Regions from separate parts of the Homo sapiens genome. Here regions 1, 2 and 4 are each reported to be linked to region 3. The links are microRNA targets in miRTarBase. Many come from high-throughput screens and were not tested one by one. Region 3 holds a microRNA gene; each other region holds the end of a gene's coding sequence. Distances are between the middles of the regions.
What was found. The annotated mature microRNA hsa-miR-4452 reads UUGAAUUCUUGGCCUUAAGUGAU and lies in region 3 at 1,174-1,196, shown strand. An mRNA with a match to its seed (bases 2 to 7 or 8) in the 3' UTR can be bound and repressed. Matches are read on the target gene's strand: a 7mer-m8 pairs with bases 2 to 8, a 7mer-A1 pairs with bases 2 to 7 and ends in A, and an 8mer does both.

Region 1 (3,181 bases), 39 Mb from region 3:
TTCTCCATTCTTCTGGCTGCCACTGCCTCTAAAATCAGCTATTTACCAGGATTTTTATAATGCTGGCTGTGGCCCCTCTACTGCCCAGGAGGGCATATGGTGACACCATTTTGTGCCTGATGGGTAGATTCAGGCTTAATAAGTTTACATTTTACAAAGGTTAAGATATGAATTCAAAATGTTCTCTTTTTTTCTCAGAAGATGCTTTACATCTAAAACTACAGCATCAAAATCGTTAGATTTTTTAAAGACAAGATAAAAATATAATAATAAAAATACAAATATTCTCAATCTTTCCCAAGAATAATAATCTAAATAGATAAATAAAAATAAATTGTTTGTTAAGGAACATAGATTACAGATACTTCCTTTCTGATTTAGCATTTCATTCTTAAAAGCTTTTAAAAGAGCTTTGACACCCAGAATGATTCATTTTTATTAGGCATCAGCCAACAATTTTCCTTCCTGTGTTTAAGATAAATGGCTGCACAGTGGTTCCTTTGCGGTCATTACGGAATATTAACCTTACAATCACTGACATGGCCACATGCCACTCTATATGGCCATTTTATGATGGCAAAGCATCTCACCCTGCCAAGGGACTGAAGAGTTTCAAAATGGATGACTTCATACCCTAAGGCTGGAGATTTCCTTGACCAGGAAAGTGTGATAATACAACTAAAAATCTAAATAAAAATGTGGTCCCTATCATGAAACCACTGAGATCATTTTTTCCAGTTAAAGCAGAGTTTTTGTATATATATTATCTTCAGCCTTAACTATTCATTTATTTTAAGGTTCCCTTTTCCTCTTGCTTTCTAAAAGAATATCTTGTACCTTTCTCCCCTTCAGCTCATCAGTAAAAATTCAGCATCATCTGTCCGGTGAAGACTGTAATTTCCAGAAGCTGATGCTATTGTAAACATGGACCCCATCACAGTCTTAGGGAAAAAGCTAGATCATTAAGCCAGGCAATCGTCCCTATTATTACCTCAACCCTTATTTCACATTCATGGGTCAGGTCCCAAACCTCCTGCATCAGTGTTTGGTTAGCTTACAGTTTCATTCAGTCTTGCAAATGAACATACAGAATTCTTAGATACTGAGGTTGAAAAATAAAATGACAAGGTTTCAGTGATATAACATGGGAAGAATCTCAACTGTAGCTGGTTGGACATGTTTAGAATTGTGTTGGGCTACTGAAGGATGCCCCTTCTATGAGAACCATGACCAAGAGTAATCCACAAGCGGAGATAAAGCAGAGGAGCAATGACAGTGATTAATGAGTGTAGACAGGGTCTATTCTTTAGGGACTGGTGCATGTGTTGGAAGCTCCACTGCTTTTCTCATCGCTCTTGTTTTTATCTGTAGTTCTGCAATTTTCAAGATTTTCTTTAAAATGGAATTCTGGTCCTGAAGGGGAATGACATCAACATGGGTATTTGTGCATTTTCCAAAGCATTCATTCCAGTCTGGAATGCAGAGCTCAGAGAGCAGAGCCATGAAGTGCCAGTTGAGGCCTGTGTGACTAGCCTGTCACCATTAGATACTGCTCTCTAGAAGGCAAAGAAATATATACTATTTGATTTAAGATTTGGCAGTTCAGATAACTGCCCAGGCACCCTTTTCACAGCACATAAATCTTGCCTTCCTAATGGCAAGGGCAATATTTTTCTCAAGCAAAAATTGCTCACCATCCCCTTCCTCCCACACTCTCTGGAGCAGGAACTATGGAACTGGGGTGGCATGGCTTCCTGGCACAGCATCAGGGGGTTCCAGGCTGATGAGATGAATTCAGGGCTGCATGTTTGAAATGGCCAGTTAGAAAAATGGTCATTGCCTTCCAAGCTCCTTATTCTCAAGAAAAAAAGAAAAATGTTCTCAATGGCTACCAGGTCGACCAGGTTGGATTCTAATGTTAATTTAAAATTTGCCGGAAAGTCGAGAAAGAAGCATATTTCAGAATATCCAGCTTAATGGTGCAGTGAAGATGGCAGGTTGGGATTGCATAACCTTGACCAGCGCTTGTCCTTCCTTCCCTCTTCTTCTGTGGAGCTGTGGAGCCCTTTTACAACGGACATGGGAGAACTTAAGGATAGAGGGGACTCTTCCTTCCCTGTCTAAGCTCCTTTTTCTTTTGCCTTCTTCCTGGAAATCTGTAACTTGTCAATGGCTTTGTTTTTTTCTTCTGAGATCCTGGAAATTGTGTGTTTTTTTTTATGTTTTTTTTTTTTTTTTTTTGGCAGCATAAGTTTGTTATAGTTTACCAGGAAGCAGTGCAGGCGGACAGCAAGGTCCTCTTTTCATTTTCCCTAAAAAATAAATCAGTGAAATCCAGGGAAACTAGAAAAGACTGCTAAAGATCTACCTGTCTAACTTCTCTCTTTGTGTTTGTTTGTAAACATGGCAATTAATAGAGCTCTTAAAGAGCTGATAACCTGGACCACGGTAGACTGGAAAAATAATTTTTTTTTTGTTTTGTCTTTTTGAAGTAAACATGGTGCAGTAATAAAACTGATATGCAAGACCTAAAACCAATTGGATGGCTGAATCTCTTACCTCGAGAAACAGCAGTATCGCTGTTGGGGACCTGTAAGGTTAAAAAACAATAGAAGAGGAAAGTAGTCTAAATGGAACCATTAGAACAGACCTCAGTGTACATAGTAAAGCCAATAGACGACATTAAAAAGAGAAAAGGTGATGGGGAAAAACATTCGGGACCACTTGTCTATGGAATTCACATCAGTCAAGTCGGGGATCTTGACTTTGAGCTGGGAGGCACGCCTGCGGATGCGCCCCTTGCTGGGTACCCCGTGCCGGTCCAGGGCGCGCCCGTAGGCCTCGCGGCTGCTCAGGGGCTTGCGGTACTGGATGCTGGCGCTGTCATAGGAGTACATGGTGGCCTTGGGGTCGCTCACGCTCGTGAGCACTTCCGAGCCACTCGTCTCATTCCGGATTTCCAGGGTGCTGAGGAGAATGTTACCGTGGGCGTCGACCTGATGGCAAAAAGAACAGGCTCGGACACAAGTTGCAGGACCTTTGCCTGTTTTCATTAACCTGTTACTAATGATACCCCATAAGGCTCATTAAACACTGTGTTCCTAAACATCTGGCTTGATGTGCCTCCCTGATGTGGAGATAGATCGATCGATCTATCTATCTATCTATCTATCTATCTATC
Region 2 (3,157 bases), not on the chromosome of region 3:
GGATAAAAGCATGTGCCTTTTCATTCTTCTCTGGGATGTTACAACAGCAACACGCTCTAAAACAATTAAGTTACATGCATAATGCTAAAAGAATGTGAGCAATCCTATAACCAGCTTTAAGCCATCTGCTTGATTTCTTTTTTTTTTTTTTTTGTAAGGAACATATATAGGAAAAGAGAATTCCCCTTTTGTTCCATTACATATAGAAACCTTTTGAAGCTTCCAAATAGCTTGGTTTTGGTAAAATTCACCACTCTTTTATTACTTTGACATGTAGTCATCCTAAACTATCCGTCATGGTTTCTCCAAAAATCTCCACATGAATTATCTGAAGGACAATTGAAACCACTTACCAATATACAAGTAACGTTTTATTTTATATTCTATCTTCCATTTGGCATAAGCCTTTCGATGTTTGTTTTTTAAACCAGTGAAATATACAAATCACGCAAGACAGAAATATGTACATTAAAAGTACAGAATAAAGGCTAGAAGATATACATAATATCTGAATGACATGTAGAATATTTTACATTAAATAGTTTCTTTTAAAAGCTAGGATTGTTAAACTCAACTCTCTTCATAAACATGAGTCACTAAAAAGGAACAATCTGATTTAGCAAATAAAAAAAGTACTTCATGGTTTTTGTATAATAAAAACCAAAAAAGTGACATTTTAAACTAATTAGTGCTTTTTGCTTTCAAGATCTTTTGCTCACAATTCACTGCAACTGAGGGGATGTGAATATCATTATGCAATAAATTAAGAGCCACAGTTGGCTGAGGTGATATGAAAGCCAACCTGCCTAAGGGGGGTATGAAAGATGTGTATCTTTCCAAACTTTTAAAACAACGTAAGTCTGAGATAAGAACATATTTGATGGCACTGTTTGGAAAGAGGTGTCCTTATTAAAAAAAAAAAAAAAAAAGCTATCTATGTAGTGGGCTGAATATTCCTTAGGGACTCAATTAATAAGTACTGTCATTTCTAATAGGCATGGGTTTCCATTCTGCAGAATGAACTAAGAAAAGAGAAACATTGCTGATGCTTCTGAGTTTTGAATATCTCTTAACGTCCATGTCTATAACGAACAAGTAATGCCCTCTCCACAAAGTGAACAGAAATGGAGGTTGGAGACAAAGGGGTGAGGCAGAAAAGAAAAAAGATATCTTCAACCCAACACGCATTTCAGTGAGTCAGAACTCAAGCTTCCTCAGAAACAAGGTTGCTTCGTCGTGCTCAAGGTATGATCACAGCAGGGCCACAGCCCAAGCTCAAGACTCAAAAAACTTTTGGAATAATCCCAACTGGACTGCAGTGAAGGACAACAATGCTCTAGACAGAGAAATAACCCCAGAGTAAACTGTAAATCTAAATCACTGGCTGCAATGAGATATATTTATATTTATATTTATATATATGTATATATATATATATGTTATGTACAAAAGACTTTGAGATATCAGGCACCATTAAACCACATTTCCCCCCTTATAAATGCAACTGTTCAAGTACACTGGGAACAGTTTTAAGGTACACCTGCAGTACAATAGGAGAAGCATGAGTGGATAATCTAAACACAGGATCATAACAGTGATACGCTGCAACACCTCTGTGAATTCCATTAGCCAAGTTCTGTCATTAAAACATAGAAAACTACTGCTCCTCAAAATAAAAGTTTTAGGAAACAAAAATCCCTAAGTAGTGAACTGTTTTCCAAGCAGAGCTCCTAATGTTTCATTTCCTGTCCTACAACCAAAGGGGACCCAGTGGAGCTGCCGTTTGGAAACGTGGCCAGCATCACATCACAACACGGAGGAATCAGAGAGGGCTCAGTGTGAAGAGGAAGGTGGATTTCACTGTTTTTCCTCAAATAGGTTGTCTGCTCTGGTGCAGTGCTGAATGGCACGCAATTACCTTGTTGCTTGGGCTGAGAACCTGTGAATGGGATTCATGTATTATTTTTACTATTATAATTTACTAACCAAGTATCCCTAAGAAAATAACAGGATATTTTCATTTATGTTCAAGCCAACCTCCCCAAACAAAAAAATCTAGTGTCCAGAATCATTTGGGGATCTTTTTACAATCTGGAATCCTAATTCTTATAACAGCTTCAAATCAACATCTTGACATAAGAGTTTTAAATTTTTTAATTTCTGGGGACTTTCCTCCCTGCTGCCCAAATTTCATGAGCTATTAGAATATGACGGTCTGTCTGCAAATGGAATATTTGAGGAGAATGAGACATGTGATATACCTTTTTTCCTTGAGAATATGACATTCTTGTCCTTCCATTGTAAATTATCATTTTGAAAATGCAGAAAGCAAGCTAGCAGCCCTGCTGGGGAAGGGAGGTTTGTTTTGTTTTGTTTTGTTTTCCCAAGACCTTTTATCTTGCACCAGAGAATTTACAACTCATTTTGGTCATAGAAGCTGAATTGTGAATAGATTTCTACCACCCTCTTTCAACTGGAACCTACCCATCCCATATGATGGCATATTTGAGAAAAAGAAAATGTATTTCTTTACCTTCTGGATGTGTACCATGTCCACACAGCTAAGTTAGGGTATGTGTTATTTCCCCTTCATTCTATACTATCAAAAGAAGTCTTGTATTACCTTTTCAAAGATCCACAAAATAAATATTTTTCTTGGTTCCCACCCCCATTATTGCCAAATAATAATTATAATATTAATAATAAACCACAGAGTTCTTAGATGGTAACAGGAAAAAAAATGGTTCCGGTTGCAATTCTTGGGGAAAAATAAAAAATATTTCTAAAAACCAAAAACCAGAATCACTGTACTTTCTATAAATAAGCGGGTCCTGGGAGCGGGGCTGAGTGCTGGGTGGCACCCACTACTTGCACACAAACTGGTCCACGATCTCCGTGCACTTCTTGCACTTGACGTAGCAGCACCAGTGGAACTTGCAGTGGCAGCGCTCCGTCTGCACGGTCTTGAACTGGTCGTAGCCACGGCCGCAGCACATGAGCTCGCAGCCATCCATGCCCTCCGACGTCTTGTTGCACAGGCGGCCCTGCGTGCCCAGCGAGCCGGTGCTCTCATTGCGCACGCAGTAGTCAGGGCTGGGGTCGATGTAGACCAGGTCTTGTGTGGTGGGCGAGTTGAAGCGGCTGTTGACCTGTACCA
Region 3 (3,181 bases):
ATCTTTTCTGCATTCAAATTTTAGTTCTTCTCTTTTTTGTGTTTAAAACATTCAAGTTTTTCTTAGAATAGATTACCCAGTCTGTTCCATTCTACTTTTTCTCTTAGGTTAGAAATAAAGATAAACAGAATAAAGGACAGTAGATTTTTATGACACAGAGCTAAGTGGTTTAGGGCTTACATTTTCCTTAGTCCTGTGAGTTAGGTGTCTCTTCAGCCATCGTGTAGAGTCTCAGGGCATATGTCACTCTGGTGTATGGGAAGTTTGTTCCCAACAAGCCAGGGAGGATTTTTAGACATCATATACTACAGGGAGAGGAAGAAGATTCCCAGAGGAAGCTGCAAGACATGGATACAAGAATGGAAGAAGAAAAAAGCTAGCTGAGAAATTAGTTTGATGAGGTCATAGTTTTGAACAGATGTAAAATTGCTAGTTTGGTCTCTGTTATTCCTATAGCTCAATTCCTGGTGTACTCTTCTCAATGCACCTACTTCTTTGGGAATCCATCTAAGTCCCCCCACCTGGACGGATCAGGTATCTAGTGTGAAATATTGCACCACATCCCTTTAACTTCCTTGGCTTTGCGATTTCACAGATTGAAGCAGCAGTAGTAAATTTGCCTTTCACTGGTTCCCTCTATACGTGAACCTTCCTTGCCCTCTGAGGCTCTGATGACCAGCTGCATGGTGAGGCAGTGTGCTCAAGGTGCCCCCCAGCATGATGGTATTTGGGTTCTTATGCTGGATCTGGGGCTGATGCCAGCGACAAGCACTAGCTGCACTTTCATGCTGGTGACAGGCAATGCTAGGTTGTGAAGTGTCCCTTCAGACAGAGATTGCATGAAAACAAGATGGAAAACATCAGTGCTATTGCTATGTTTCAGTCTCAAAAGCAAAGCAAGCAGTGTCTGTAGTGTTCCCTTGAAAGTTTTCTCTAAGACTTTGGCTAGCATACTGGGAAATTTTGTCTTCTCATACATATATCTGAGAAATGTTGACAGTTGGAACCTGAGCTAGGGTACGGTTGACAGGTCAGTGAACTCTGTATTATCATAGGGAGTTTCTTTTTTTTAGAGAGAGTCTCACGTTGCCCAGGCTAGAGTGCAGTGGCTATTCACAGGTGCGATCATGGATCACTTGAGGCCAAGAGTGCAAGGCTGTAGTGTGCACAGCCTTGAATTCTTGGCCTTAAGTGATCCCTGTCCCAGCCTCCTGAATAGCTGGGACTACAGGTACACACCACTGTGTCCAGCTAGGGAGTTGAAGCCTTCATGTTACAGATAAAGAAATTTGGGGCTAAAGGAGGTTGAAAGACTTATTAAACATCACACAACTTGTCAGTGGCAGAGCCAGAGCTAAAACTCTGGTCTCTGAACTCCTGGCCTAGTATTCTTTGCATTATAACACACTGCCCAACAGTGCTTGTGCTTGCATCTGCTGGCTGGCCCAGGGTGCCAAGAGACAAAGGCCAATGACGTGACATACCTTTTTAATGTAATTGGGCTTCTTAATGTTATTTTTCTGGACATTATGGATAATACTTCTATCTCTCAATATTCTGAATAAAAATATAATGCATACTCATTATGGAGAATAGGAAACTTGGAAACATAGAAGAAAATAATATTTTATAACTTGATTATCCAGATAGGATCACTATTAATATTTTATTTCTTTCTTTTTCCCCACCTGTGTGTGTGTGTGTGTGTGTGTGTGTGTGTGTGTGTGTGTGTGCCGGTGTATTCATGTGCATTTACAAAATTGGGATTATATATTTTGTATCAGCTGGGCTTCTTTCTTTAGTGCAAATAACAGAAACTGACCCAGTTACAAACTTAAGGAAGGAAAGGAATTTCTTGGCAGTCCACAGAATAAAAAACACCCAGGCTTTGGAAGATTAGGACCCAGGAAGGTTCAGGGAGCTCTGCAGCAGAAACTCAGAGCTGCTTTTTTCTCAGAATAGAGAATAATTACTGGGTAGACCAAAATAGCACTGTAGATAGATGTCCCAGCTTTGAAATTCACAATCATATCTTGGATGAGTACAGAGTTTCTTTAAATTTCTCTGTAACTGAATTTATTTTGTCACTAGTTCAGTGCAACTCTGTCTGTCTCTTCGAGGTTATTATCACATTTGAAGTTCAGCCTCCCTCTCAGGGCTATTTTTCCCTCTCAAGATTTTTCCTTTCTACCACTTCTTCTCCCCTTCCTGGTGGCGGTCTTTGGGAATAGAAAAAGCTCACGCTACCACCCTGCTGCAAGGAAGGCATATCTGGTCTTTGTGTGACCCTCCATTCCTTCCTGGCTGTGAAGTCTTGTTTACATGGATTTTGCCTATGGGTTTGTTCTGGACACTGGGCAGTGCAGTGCAGAGCAATTACTCCCAGGAGTTTGGTTATCTTCTCCTGCTGCTGCTGAGAACCAACTACCCCTGGCTTTAGTGTGGGACCTCCCAATTCTCTGCTATGTCTCCCCTGCCCCCACTCCCCACTTTCCCCATAAGCCAGCTGTCGCATTGTTCCCAGATCTCTCCCATGCCCCTTTCAAGATTTCAAGAATGCCCCATGGGGATTGTAGGGGCTGGTAGGGTAGGAGCCTCTCTCAGCCCCCACCCCACCCCAATCCTGACTTGGTGCCATTCATACTCTTTGCAGCCACCCTGCGTTATCAGTGGGCATTCTGAAAGTGGCTCCTCCCTGATTTCATGTAGGAAATCTAACAAAAGTACCTCTGCTTTTGTTGTTCAAGATAGGGTCTTGCCATGTTGCCCAGGCTGGTCTCAAACTTCTGGGCTCAAGTGATCCTCCCACCTCAGCCTCGCAAAGTGCTGGGATTTCAGGAATGAGCCACCACGCCTACCCCAAAGTACCTTCTTTTCTCATGTCAAGAAACCTATTTGGAAAGAGGCCAGTCCCCTCAGGGACTTTTCCTACATCTGACTTTCTTCTCTTTTTTCCCTCTTTCTCCATGCTCTTCCCTGCAGCCCAGGAAGGGAATTATTCTTCTTCCTTGCTATCAGGCAAGAATATATTAAGTACTGCATTATTTTTATTCTGTGATTAACTTTTGTAATCTCTGTGCTCTCGTCTTCTAGATTCTGCATCAGTTTTCCAATCATGTTCGTTTTTATTAATTCAAAAGAAAATCCTTCTCTTTCAATTGCCCAGTTTTTTTGTTTGTTT
Region 4 (3,181 bases), not on the chromosome of region 3:
CAAATCTAGAGAGACTCAGCCATAGAAAATGAACAGTCACATCCAAAGCGCAGCCATCCTGAGATGGCTTCAAACTTAGAGGGAGGTGTAGGTGCTGTCCAGGCCAGACACTCTTCAGTTTCCAAACAGTTCCTAGAGGAAGAGAAGCCACTATCACCCAGAAGCCACCTACACCCAGACTAGACCCGGGGCTCTGCCCTGTGTTTGTCAGGGGCCACTAGTGCCCTGACTGCTGTTTCCTGATGATATTCCTTCAAGCAGAGGCCTCTATTACACGTGCCCCAGCTCACCTACATCAGGGAGAGAGTGGTCTCCTGACCGTGATGGTGGGAGCCCCTAGTGGAGCTGAGCAGACACTCTCTTCCCTTCATTTTCACAGGACCTGGAAAGGACAACCACACTTGCTTTACTGGAGATGATTCTTATGTTCTATTTTATTCACTTCTGCAAGAAATACTCAAATTTTGTATAATAAGCCTTGTGATATCATGATAAATATGTATCTGGTCTTCATCCTCAATGACTAGCAGAGAGCTCCCCAAACCTTGGAGAATTCCTGAGGGATAAGGGTGCTAAGAGCATCTTTTCTTATCATATTTGGTCTTTGACACTTGTTCCTGACACAGAGCTGTTAAACCCATTGGAATTTCCTTAGTGATGCATGTCTTTGTTCTAATAAGGCAACTCTTGGATTTCCGATGGGTTCAGCTTGGGGGCTAACTGGAAAGACCAAGGCATGATTAGAAACTTGGAAGCTGAGGCGGGCGGACCACGAGGTCAGGAGATAGACACCATCTTGGCCAACATGGTGAAACCCTGTCTCTACTACACTACAAAAAATCAGCCGGGTGTGGTGGCGAGTGCCTGTGGTCTCAGCTACTCGGGAGGCTGAAGCAGGGGAATTGCTTGAACCTGGGAGGCGGAGGTTGCAGTGAGCCGATATCATGCCACTGCACTCCAGCCTGGGCGACAGAGAATCTGTCTCAAAAAAAAAAAAAAAAAAAAAAGCCAGGCACAGTGGCTCCAGCCTGTAATCCCAGCACTTTGGGAGGCCAAGGCGGGCGGATCATGAGGTCAGGAGATCCAGACCATCCTGGCTAACACAGTGAAACCCCATCTCTACTAAAAATACAAAAAATTAGCAAGGCATGGTGGGGGTGCATGTAGTCCCAGCTACTCAGGAGGCTGAGGCAGAAGAATGGCATGAACCCGGGAGGTGGAGTTTGTAGTGAGCCGAGATTGCGCCACTGCACTCCAGCCTGGGCGACAGAGCGAGACTCCGTCTCAAGAAAAAAAAAAAAAAAAAAAGAAATCAGCAAGTCATAAAACTGAACTCCTAGGCTCCTAGAATGGGAAAGAAAGAGGGACTATGCAAAATTAGGTTTTCTGGAAAGTGAAAAATAGAGTGCTTCTTTTGAGTACTGAGCTTTACCAGATCTTTTGGGGATTATGAAGTAGTTGAAACCCTCTCTACAATCTAAGGCCAAAGGCAAATTTTAAATGACTAAAATACATTCTTAGGCAAGTATTAATAATTGTAGTGAGCAAGATTTGGTTCAAAAGTGAATAAAAAGGCCGGGCATGGTGGCTCGTGTGTAATCCCAGCACTTTGGGAGGCTGAGGTGGGCGGACTGCCTGAGCTTAGGAGTTCACCACCAGCCTAGGCAACACAGTGAAACCCCATCTCTACTAAAATACAAAAAATTAGCTGGGCATGGCATGGTGCACCTGTAGTCCCAAGTACTTGGAAGGCTGAGGCAGGAGAATTGCTTGAATCCAGGAGGTGGAGGTTGCAGTGAGCCAAGATCATGCCACTACACTCCAGCCTGGGTGACAGAGCGAGACTCCATCTCAAAAAAAAAAAAAAAAAAAAAGTAAATAAAGGTAGGCTGGGTGTGGTGGCTTGTGTCTGTAATTCCAGCACTTTGGGAAGCTGAGGCAGGAGGATTCCTTGAGCCCAGGAGGTTGAGACCAGCCTGGGCAACATAGCAAGACCCTATCTCTTAAAAAAAAAAAAAAGCTGGGTGTGGTGGTGTGTGCCTGTGGTCCCAGCTACTCAGGAGGTTAAGGCAAGAGGATCACTTGAGCCCAGGAGGTTGAGGCCACAGTGAACCACGATCACACCACTGGGCTCCCGCTGGAGGGCTACGACGAGACCCAGTCTCAAAAATAATACATAAAGGTAGAGCGCAGATAACAAGGACAGAACCCCGTTACATGTCAGCCTGGCTCTTATCATCAGAAGTCTCTTACCTGGCATCAGCTCACATTTCAGAAGGCCCCCTACTTCCTCATTCCTCACTCACTGAAACTATCAGTCTGTAATGAGGCTCAGGACAGATTGAACCTATCTTGTAGGAGATACTCAAGGAAGATCCATAATTGACTGATATACTCCAAATGGCAAGGAATGTGGTTCTGGACAAGAAAAGAAACAGGCCAAGTCACATAGAAACATATCAAAATGACAGCACTTTATTTCTTTTTTGAGATGGAGTCTCGCTCTGTTGCCCAGGCTGGAGTGCAGTGGCATGATCTCAGCTCACTGCAACTTCCGCCTCCTGGGTTCAAGTGATTCTCCTACCTCAGCCTCCCGAATAGCTGGGCTTACAGGCATGCACCACCATGCCCGGCTCATTTTTGTATTTTTAGTAGAGACAGGATTTTACCATGTTGGCCAGGCTGGTTTCAAACTCCTGATCTCAAATGATCTGCCTGCCTTGGCCTCCCAAAGTGCTGGGATTATAGGCGTGAGCCACCACGCCCAGCCGACAGCACTTTATTTTGATGAATTCTTTGGTGTCGGATAAGGTGTGTACTTTGTCTAAATCTTTCCCCACATTCAAGACATTTGTAAGGCTTTTCCCCAGTGTGAATTCTCTGGTGTTTAATGAGGGTTGCACTCTGATTGAAGCGTTTCCCACAGACGGAACATCCATAGGGCTTCTCCCCAGTGTGGATTCTGTGGTGTTTAAAGAGGTCAGAGCGCTGTTTGAAGCTCTTCTCGCATTCTTCACACTTATAGGGTCTTTCCCCTTTATGTAGTCTCTGATGTCTAAAAAGGTTGGAAATATGACAGGTTTCCCCGCATTCCTCACATTTAAAATGTTTGTCTCTACTGTGGGTACTTTGATGACGATTTAGGTGTGAATTCTGCCTGAAGCGCTCCCCACATTTCAGA

Region 1: the mRNA of GABRB1 is a reported target of hsa-miR-4452. The part of its 3' UTR that is shown has no 7-base or 8-base seed match.
Region 2: the mRNA of WNT5A is a reported target of hsa-miR-4452. Seed matches in the 3' UTR shown: 7mer-m8 at 1,617-1,623.
Region 4: miRTarBase lists ZNF394 as a target of hsa-miR-4452. The part of its 3' UTR that is shown has no 7-base or 8-base seed match.

What each region holds. Positions count from the first base shown.
Region 1 is chr4:47,425,489-47,428,669 of GRCh38, reverse strand. It overlaps GABRB1 (gamma-aminobutyric acid type A receptor subunit beta1), which reads right to left. Exons shown (of 9, transcript NM_000812.4): 9 at 2,223-2,996. The coding sequence ends at 2,652. Among named protein-coding and RNA genes, the nearest start is that of COMMD8, 37 kb to the left of the region's middle.
Region 2 is chr3:55,467,228-55,470,384 of GRCh38, forward strand. It overlaps WNT5A (Wnt family member 5A), which reads right to left. Exons shown (of 5, transcript NM_003392.7): 5 at 1-3,157. The coding sequence ends at 2,865. Among named protein-coding and RNA genes, the nearest start is that of WNT5A, 18 kb to the right of the region's middle.
Region 3 is chr4:86,540,500-86,543,680 of GRCh38, reverse strand. It overlaps MIR4452 (microRNA 4452), which reads left to right and starts at 1,129; the gene lies at 1,129-1,199. It also overlaps a transcript of MAPK10 not described here.
Region 4 is chr7:99,490,787-99,493,967 of GRCh38, forward strand. ZNF394 (zinc finger protein 394) reads right to left here. Exons shown (of 3, transcript NM_032164.4): 3 at 2,454-3,181. The coding sequence ends at 2,743. Among named protein-coding and RNA genes, the nearest start is that of ZNF394, 7.9 kb to the right of the region's middle.